Homo sapiens: one gene and its partner. The protein of the gene in region 1 purifies or fractionates together with the protein of each later gene. This does not show direct contact. Each region holds a gene or a part of one and is shown in the gene's direction. Other genes may lie near its edges.

The links. The genes of interacting proteins can lie anywhere in the genome.
Region 2: the proteins of LRRC31 (region 1) and ATP2A2 purify together in Homo sapiens (affinity purification with mass spectrometry, with the first as the bait; one large-scale study listed by BioGRID). This does not show direct contact.

The regions. Positions count from the first base shown.
Region 1 is NC_000003.12:169,844,697-169,850,308, reverse strand, and holds part of LRRC31 (leucine-rich repeat-containing protein 31), read left to right. Parts: intron 1-2,021; coding exon 2,022-2,189; intron 2,190-5,612.
Region 2 is NC_000012.12:110,326,247-110,329,746, forward strand, and holds part of ATP2A2 (sarcoplasmic/endoplasmic reticulum calcium ATPase 2), read left to right. Parts: intron 1-143; coding exon 144-229; intron 230-1,306; coding exon 1,307-1,771; intron 1,772-3,500.

The DNA.
Region 1 (5,612 bases):
AGCTGAGCAAAATACTCAGGCTGAGCCAAATACTCAGGCCGAAAAGGAGGGCAAGAATGCCCTAAATATAGAGTTCTTCAAATTTGGGGGTAAATAATATGCATTTATTTTTATTAATGTATAATAATAATTACTCATTTTTATGAATTTAATGCATTTATTTCATTAATAATAGCCCTTGTCTGGTGGACAGTACAATTCATTTTTAAGGAAGTGCCAACTGATAAAAAACACTGGTGAGAGGGTTGGAGAGAAGGACTCTGTTTTTAGCATTATCCAGGAAGCACCCAAATCCAGCAACTCCAATCACGTGTATGGGGGCAAAAAAGAGTTAACGTAGCAGGCCTGATGCTGCTATCCCTGTAAAGGCCTGCTATCAACCAGTAAGGCTGGCCCTTAGCTAATATCCCAGAACTTGGAATCTGGGGGTGTTCATACCATTTCCTAACTGAGAAGGGTGGTTTACTGTGCCTAACCTGTTTGCACAGACAACATGGTTTATGCTGAACATGAGCTTTTCTTTTGTGAGGATGGAATTTTGGTGTATGCTGAGCGGAGGGTAGCTAGATGACTAACCCCCAGTAGAGAACCGTGGACTTGGGTCAGGCACAGTGGCTCACACCTGTAATCCCAGTACTTTGGGAGGGTCTTGCTCTGCTGCCCAGGCTGGAGTGCAGTGGCACTATCATGGCTCACTGTAGCCTTGAACTCCTGGGATCAAGTGATTATGCCATCTCAGCCTCCTCAGTAGCTTCTGGGTCTATAGGAACATGCCACCACACCTGGCCAATTTTTGTATTTTTGGTAGAGATAGAGTTTTACCATGTTGCCCATTCTGGGAAAATATTTTTTTTTTAAAGGAATTGCAGCCATTAGAAGGCACAGCTGTTTCTAATTCTAGCTGCACAATCAATGAATCATGATCAACTAGGTATCACACTAAATTATATCATCTGACATAAATCTACCATTCAATTTGAATTAAGTAAATGAAGCAAATATATATTTCCCTACATCACTTTTAGAAGAAAAAGTTCCATTTCTCCTTAATGTAGATCTCTGTAAGGATTTTCTTACTAGATATTATAAAAGGATATATATTTTCCCCTTGAACACATTATTTTCTAGAAGGAAGGCAGAATAGATTAAAGTGCAATTAACTTGGGAATAAGATATTCTGGTTAATTTTAACATTGGGGGCAACTGAGAATTAAGCAGAAAATCTTTTACTTTTCTTTAAAAATCTTTCCAAAATACATTAGTTACTTTCCTTGCCTGCAGTAATTGCGTGAAGTAAATACAAATAAGTTTTGGTATTTCAGACTCTGAGGGAGGCTTGCCCCCATCTGAATCTCAGCAGTGACTGTGCAGTGAAATATGTACCAACCAGGACACATTCTGGAAATCTTGACTAGCTGTCCAAGCACTTTGCCTCTTTCTCCTTCCTACATGTGAAGTGAAGGAAAGAAACCCCAGTTGGACAGTGAATTCCAATTTATCAAGTTTTGCATTGCTAAAGTTTCCAATATTTCCCCAAATAAAAACAGACAACAGGCTGGGCGCGGTGGTTCACGCCTGTAATCCCAGTACTTCGGGAGGCCAAGGCTGGCGGATCCTGAGTCAGGAGATCGAGACCATCCTGGGCAACATGGTGAAACAGCGTCTCTATTAAAATACAAAAATAATTAGCTGGGTGTGGTGGCACGCACATGTAGCCCCAGCTGCTCGAGAGGCTGAGGCAGGGGAATCACTTGAACCCGGGAGGCGGAGGTTGCAGTGAGCCAAGATCGCGCCACTGCACTCCAGCCTGGTGACAGAGCAAGGCTCTGTCTCAAAACAAAAAACAAAAAACAGACAACATAAATTGAGGCCATAAATTTAAGGCAGAAGAAAATGGTCTCTACAACTTTCTCAACCCCAGTTATATTCATGTGTTGTCCTAGACCAGTTTCCTCAAATCCAAAGCCTATGATCTGTAAGAAATCCTAAATTACTGCTGTTCGTATTGTTATCACTTTTAGCTGAAGCCTCTGTTCACCTCTCTGCTCTGGAAGTATTCAACCTTTCTTGGAACAAGTGTGTTGGTGGCAACTTGAAGCTGCTTCTGGAAACACTAAAGCTTTCCATGTCTCTTCAAGTGCTGAGGCTGAGCAGCTGTTCCCTGGTGACAGAGGATGTGGCTCTCCTGGGTGTGTATCTACTTGTTCCCAAGCGGTCTTGGCAAACAGAGCAGTGGGTGCGGCCCCTGCAAAGCACCAGGTGGGGAGGTGGGGGAGGTACCAGACCTGGGGTGAAGCCCTCTGTGCAGATTCCCTTCTCACCAACATCTGCCGAGAGGTCTAATTAAAATGAGCGAAGGCAATTCTAAAACCACATGACAGTGGAAGGCATTTCCTAAAAGGATATGGATATAGATAGGTGGGGAGGTTCCTGAAAGGCAAACAGCTCTGTTCCACACCTCCGCGGTCCGTGAGTGTTCCCACTTCAGTCATCTACATCTCACCCATCCACATGGTTCCAGCACTATTGCTTAACTTTTCCTTTAAATTGACTCTTTAATTTAAATGCTTTTATTTAAACAGGAAACTGATTATCACTGTAACTGAAATACAGGTATCACTTCTCACAGATACTAGACTGCTGATGGCTTTGATTAGAGGCTCCTCTCTATTAGAAAAAGATGAGAGGGTTAAAGGCATACTGTAGTAACAATCTGACCCTTTTTCCATGTCAGTCTAGAAAGATGGAAAGATAATTGAATAAGGAATAACTTTTGCACTGTGGGATTGAGGCTACCCAAATATTCCCTAAAATCATTTTATGTGTCTGGGCACGGTGGCTCACGCCTATAATCCCAACGCTTTGGGAGGCCGAGGCTGGCGGATCACTTGAGGTCAGGAGTTCAAGACCAGCCTGACCAACATGAAGAAACCCCATCTCTACTAAAAATACAAAATTAGCAGGACATGGTGGCACATGCCTGTAATCCCAGCTACTCGGGAGGCTGAGGCAGGAGAATCACTTGAACCTGGGCGGCCGAGGTTGCAGTGAGCTGAGATCGTGCCACTGCACTCCAGCCTGGGCAGCAGGGGCGAAACTCCTTCTCAAAAAACAAAACAAAACAAAATAAAAAACTCATTCTATGTTTCCACTTTCCCATTATAAAACAATGAATCAGAGAGTACTCTCTCTGGCTCCCATCTAGCCTTGTCCCCACACTCCAATCACTATTCAGCCGGAATTCCAAAGCAATGAGCGCGCCTCCCAATGAAGGGCCAGAACAGTCACTCCAGGTAGTTGTATCTGTGTTCTCAGTGTATATATTAGTCAGTTTTGCTATGACACGGCACATGGGCCTAAAAATCATGTGTTATGCAAGAATTATTCAGTAATAACCACAGGACTTACGGTTGGAAGCACCGCACTCAAACACTTCATCAGTGGCATATTTTAAAAAACAGAAGCTATGAAAAATAGCAATACAGTTTTACATATTAAATAGTTAAGAAATGAGCAAATATTACATTTTCCCGAGAAAGACCTGAAGTTTGTAGAAGTGGCCTGTCCACACTTCCATTGGTGGAAAGAGGGTGTGTGGAGAGATGAGGGTTGTTGTCCTCATGAGGTGTGTGCATGTCTGCATTTTCTTTCTTTTTTTTTTTAGACAGAGTTTCACTCTGTCACCCAGGCTGGAATGAAGTAGCATGATCTTGGCTCACTGCAACCTCCGCCTGCCATGTTCAACAGATTCTCCTGCCTCAGCCTCCTGAGTAGCTGGGATTAGAGGCATGCCACCACGCCTGGCTAATTTTTGTATTTTTGGTAGAGACGGGGTTTCGCCCTGTTGGCCAGGCTGGTCTCAAACACCTGACCTCAGGTGATCCACCCGCCTAGGCTTCCCAAAATGCTGGGATTACAGGCGTGAGCCACCGTGCCCAGGCTGTTTATTTCTATATGCAGCTCAATTCAGCTGGGGACAGTTTTATATGTTCACCTAGTGTTTCCTGTGGACAAATTGTGTGCATAATGCAAACAAGAAATTTGCATTATACTCAGATTGTTTCCTGACATTTCAATCTCATTGAAATAAACTTGTGTTTTCAAAACAAGTGTTATAGCAAAAATGATTGTAATTAGAAGATGGGGACAAAACATTGTGATTTTAATTCGCATTTCCCTAATGACCAATGATGTCAAACATCTTTTTATGTGTGTATTTTCATTTCTTAGCTCCTTTGGTGAAATGTCTGTTCTAAATCTTTTGCCTGATTTAAAAAATTGGATTGTTTGTTTTCTTATTGATGAGTTTGGAGAGTTTTTTAGATTTTTCTGAATACAAGTAAGTCCTTTATCAGAAATATAATTTGCTATTATTTTCTCTGGGTCTGTCCCACTGGCTTTTTCATTCTCTTGATAGTGTTTTTTTGCAGATCAAAGCTTTCAGTTTTGATAAAGATTTATCAATTTGTTAATTTGATGAATAGAGTTTTTTTGTGTTGCATCTTAGAGCGTTTTGCAAATCTAAGTTCTCAAAGATTTTTTCCATATTTTTGTCTTAAAGCTTTGTATTTGCATTTTATATTTTGACCTATTACCTATTTTGAGTTAATTTTTATATAAGGTATGAGGTATGGGTAGAGGTTAATATTTTTGCATATTACTGTCCAATTATTTGAGTGCCATTAACTGAAAAGACTATCCATTCTCCATTGATTTGCCTTTATATTTTTGTGAAAAATCAATTGGCCATATTTGTGATGGCCTACTTCTGGTCTCTCAGTTCTGTTCTATTGATCTCTGTGTCTCTTATTTTACCAATATCACGCTGTCTTGATTGCTGAAACTTTATAGTAAGTCTTGAAATGAAGTAGTATAAGTATTCTTTGTTTCTTTTTCAAAATTGTTTTGGTTATTCTAGTTACTTAGCATTTCCATTTAAAGCTAGCATCAGATTGTCAATATCTATTTTAAAAATCCATCTGGAAATTTTATTGGGATTACATTGAATTTATAGATCAATTCAGGGAGAAATGACATCTTAACAATATTGAGTATTCCAATCCATGAACACAGTCTATCTCTGTATTTAAGTACTCTTTGATTTCTTTCACTGGTGTTTTCTAGTTTTTATATTTTGTTAAATTTATATCTGAGTGTTTAATTTTTGTTCTCTTATAAAAGATACTGTTTAATTTTAGATTCCCAATGTTACGTGGATATATAATTGATTTTTGTATATTGACATTTTACTGCAAACTTGCTAAACTCATCTGTTAGCTGTAGGATATTTTTGGTAGATCCTGTAGGATTTTCTATATAGATAATCATATCATCTATGATTAGAGACAGGTTTTGTTTTGTTTTTTTTTTTTTTTTTTGAGATGGAGTCTCATTCTGTCACCAGGCTGGAGTGCAGTGGCATGATCTCGGCTCACCACAACTTCCGACTCCTGGGTTCAAGCGATTCTCCTGCCTCAGCCTGCTGAGTAGCTGGGACTACAGGCATGTGCCACCACTCCCAGCTAGTTTTTGTGTTTTTAATACAGACGGGGTTTCACCATGTTGGTCAGGATAGTCTCGATCTCCTGACCTCGTGATCTGCCTGCCTCAGC
Region 2 (3,500 bases), on another chromosome or scaffold:
CTTTGAATGAATTGGGCCTTTTGCCAACCTTTTCTCACACTAACAGTATCCCAAGAGTGGTAATGGGTGGGCATGAATGAGAGGTTCTAGGTTCTTGGTGTGGGTCGCAGAGATCTGTTTTTTCTGTCTCACAACCCGCTTAGGTGAATCTGTCTCTGTCATCAAGCACACTGATCCCGTCCCTGACCCACGAGCTGTCAACCAAGATAAAAAGAACATGCTGTTTTCTGTAAGTACTTTATGAAATGTGTTTTTATTTACAGACATTTCCAAAGCCTAATCAAATGTTATGTTTTTCACTGCCAACCATCACTGGCTATCATTCTAAAGGATAATCACACTTTTCATGGTCAGTCTTAGGTGTCAGAATATGGCAGTAACATAACGTGTGACTTAGATGTCTTTTAATTGGCAAGTTTTGGGGGACCAAAAAATAATGACTAGCTTATACATCTTCAAACTCTTACCTGCAAACATAGTTGAAAAGTAGATTTGTTTGGAAAAGCCTTAGCCAATAAAGGGTATTTTCAAAATGATGTAGATGACAGCTGCTATTTGTATGTGGTTCACAATAAAAAGGTGCGTGTTTAGAGAGAGAGAGAAAGCAAACATGGCAAACCATTAATAATGGTGAGTCTAGGTGCAAAGTATATGAATGTTCATTTTACTATTTCACTTTTTCTATTGATGTGAAAAATTCTTTGAATAGTGAGGAAATGATTTTAAGTTGGGGACATTTGTGGGTTTGTATGAGAACCTGACTACTACCCATAGTAAGTAAATAGAGGTACCCTGAAAATAGTGAAGCCATGTCCTTCTCTTATAACACTAGGAATTAAAGTGGCATGGGAGAGACTGCTCACATTTGATTTCTTTGGTTTTTGGACCCTGTCACATGAGTAGGGGTTGTCAAGATAGCCCATGGGGCTAGTTGCCGTTTCTATTACAGTGAGAAAAGTAGGGGCCTTGAGTTGTTGGAGCCAGAAGTGGAGAATGCTTAGAGTTGAACTATATGAGTTTGAAAAATTGGGAACACAGAGGGGTTAAGAGCACTGCTTGAAGATGGTCTGCAAGCCGGGCTCAAATAGAAATCTAGGTGGGTCAGTACAGAGCTGCCTGACATAAGTAAGTAGCACATGGAGCATTGCTTGTTGTCACAGTTGTATGGCTGGTTGCTTGAACAGTAGCCAGTGGAAGACCTAGTAGAATGTGTAGAGAATCTGGGTGCCCTAGTCAAAAACCAGCGTCGGTATTTAAGTTGGGATGTGGTATTCATCTTGTGACCAGTTCTCTACTTCTGTCCTAGGGTACAAACATTGCTGCTGGGAAAGCTATGGGAGTGGTGGTAGCAACTGGAGTTAACACCGAAATTGGCAAGATCCGGGATGAAATGGTGGCAACAGAACAGGAGAGAACACCCCTTCAGCAAAAACTAGATGAATTTGGGGAACAGCTTTCCAAAGTCATCTCCCTTATTTGCATTGCAGTCTGGATCATAAATATTGGGCACTTCAATGACCCGGTTCATGGAGGGTCCTGGATCAGAGGTGCTATTTACTACTTTAAAATTGCAGTGGCCCTGGCTGTAGCAGCCATTCCTGAAGGTCTGCCTGCAGTCATCACCACCTGCCTGGCTCTTGGAACTCGCAGAATGGCAAAGAAAAATGCCATTGTTCGAAGCCTCCCGTCTGTGGAAACCCTTGGTTGTACTTCTGTTATCTGCTCAGACAAGACTGGTACACTTACAACAAACCAGATGTCAGTCTGCAGGGTAAGAGGAGTAATTTAGAATATTCCGTGTCGTGGTTCTTTGTTCATCCTACCAATATGCCTTCATGCCATCAAAACTTTTGATTTGTAATTTCATACATTTCTGTGGGCTGTATGTATAGCCTGAGCTTAATTTCTAATATTTGAGAGGATCTAATCATTTAATTCCTAAAACTTTCACAAAATACAGGATATCTGTATGGCTGATATACTTGTATTAGATGTAAGAGAATTAGAGAAATTATATTTTCCTTTAATTAAAAAAAAAAAAAGCCTGGGCGCAGTGGCTCACGCCTGTAATCCCAGCACTTTGAGAGGCCGAGGCGGGTGGATCACCTGAGGTCCGAAGTTTGAGACCAACCTGACCAAAATGGTGAAACCCTGTCTCTACCGAAAAGACAAAAATTAGCTGAGTGGTGGCGTGCACCTGTAGTCCCAGCTACTCGAGAGGCTGAGACAGGAGAATTGCTTGAACCTGGGCAGCGGAGGTTGCAGTGAGCCAAGATCACACCACTGCTCTCAATTCTGGGCGACAAGCAAGACTCCATCTCAAAGAAAAGAAAAGAAAAAAGACAAGGTCTCATTCTGTTGCCCAGGCTAGTGTGCAGTGACACAGCTGTGGCTCACTTACAGCCTCAACCTCCCAGGCTCAAGTCCTCCCACCCCAGCCTCACAAGTAGCTGCAACCACAAGTGCATGCCACCATGCCCCACTAGTTTTTTTATTTTTTTTTGTAGAGGCAGGTTCTCACTATGTCACCAGGCTGGTCTTGAATTCCTGGGCTCAAGTGATCCTCCTGCCTTGGCCTCCCAAAGAGCTGGGATTATAAGCATGAACCACCACACTCAGCCTCCTTTCTAATTTTCCTGATCCTCTGTCTCTAGGTGTATGTTAATAGACAAGTTCTAGAGAAAGCTGCTAGTTAACCTCCCTACCTGAAGTCCTAATTGGTTTTTCTATCACATGTTGAATGAAGCGTGCTTTTTCTCAAAAAGTAGATAGTCATCTCTCTGTATTCATTAGAGATTGGTTCCAGGACCTCCCTCAGATACCAAACTCTGCAGATGCTCAAGTCTCTGAAATGAAATGGTTCAGTACTTGCATATAACCTTGTTCATCCTCCAGTATACTTGAAAACATCTCCAGATTACTTACAGTACCTAACGTAATATTATAAATGATATGTAAATAGTTAAACTGTGTTGTTTAGGGATAGTTAACCTGTGTTGTTTAGGGAATAATGACAAGAAAAAAATGTACATGTTCAGTACAGATGCAGTTATTTTTTCCATCTGCTGTTTAGTTGACCGTGGATGTGGAACCCACAGGTACAGAGGGCTGACTAAAATTGCTTTTAACTTGCTTTATTCTGTGTATTCATCATATATATTTTTGTTTGTTTGTTTGTTCTTGTTTTGAGATGGAGTTTCACTCTTGTTGCCCAGGCTGTAGTGCAATGGCCCGATCTCAGCTCACTACAACCTCCGCCTTCTGGGTTCAAGCAATTCTCCTGCTTCAGCCTCCCAAGTAGCTGGGATTACAGGCATGCGCCCCCACGCCCGGCTAATTTTTTGTATTTTTAGTAGAGATAGGGTTTCTCCATGTTGGTCAGGCTGGTCTCGAACTCGCGACCTCAAGTGATCCACCCGCTTTTGAAAGCCTCCCAAAGTGCTGGGATTATAGGCGTGAGCCCCCGCGCCCGGCCATCCTATATTTTTTGACCATCATTT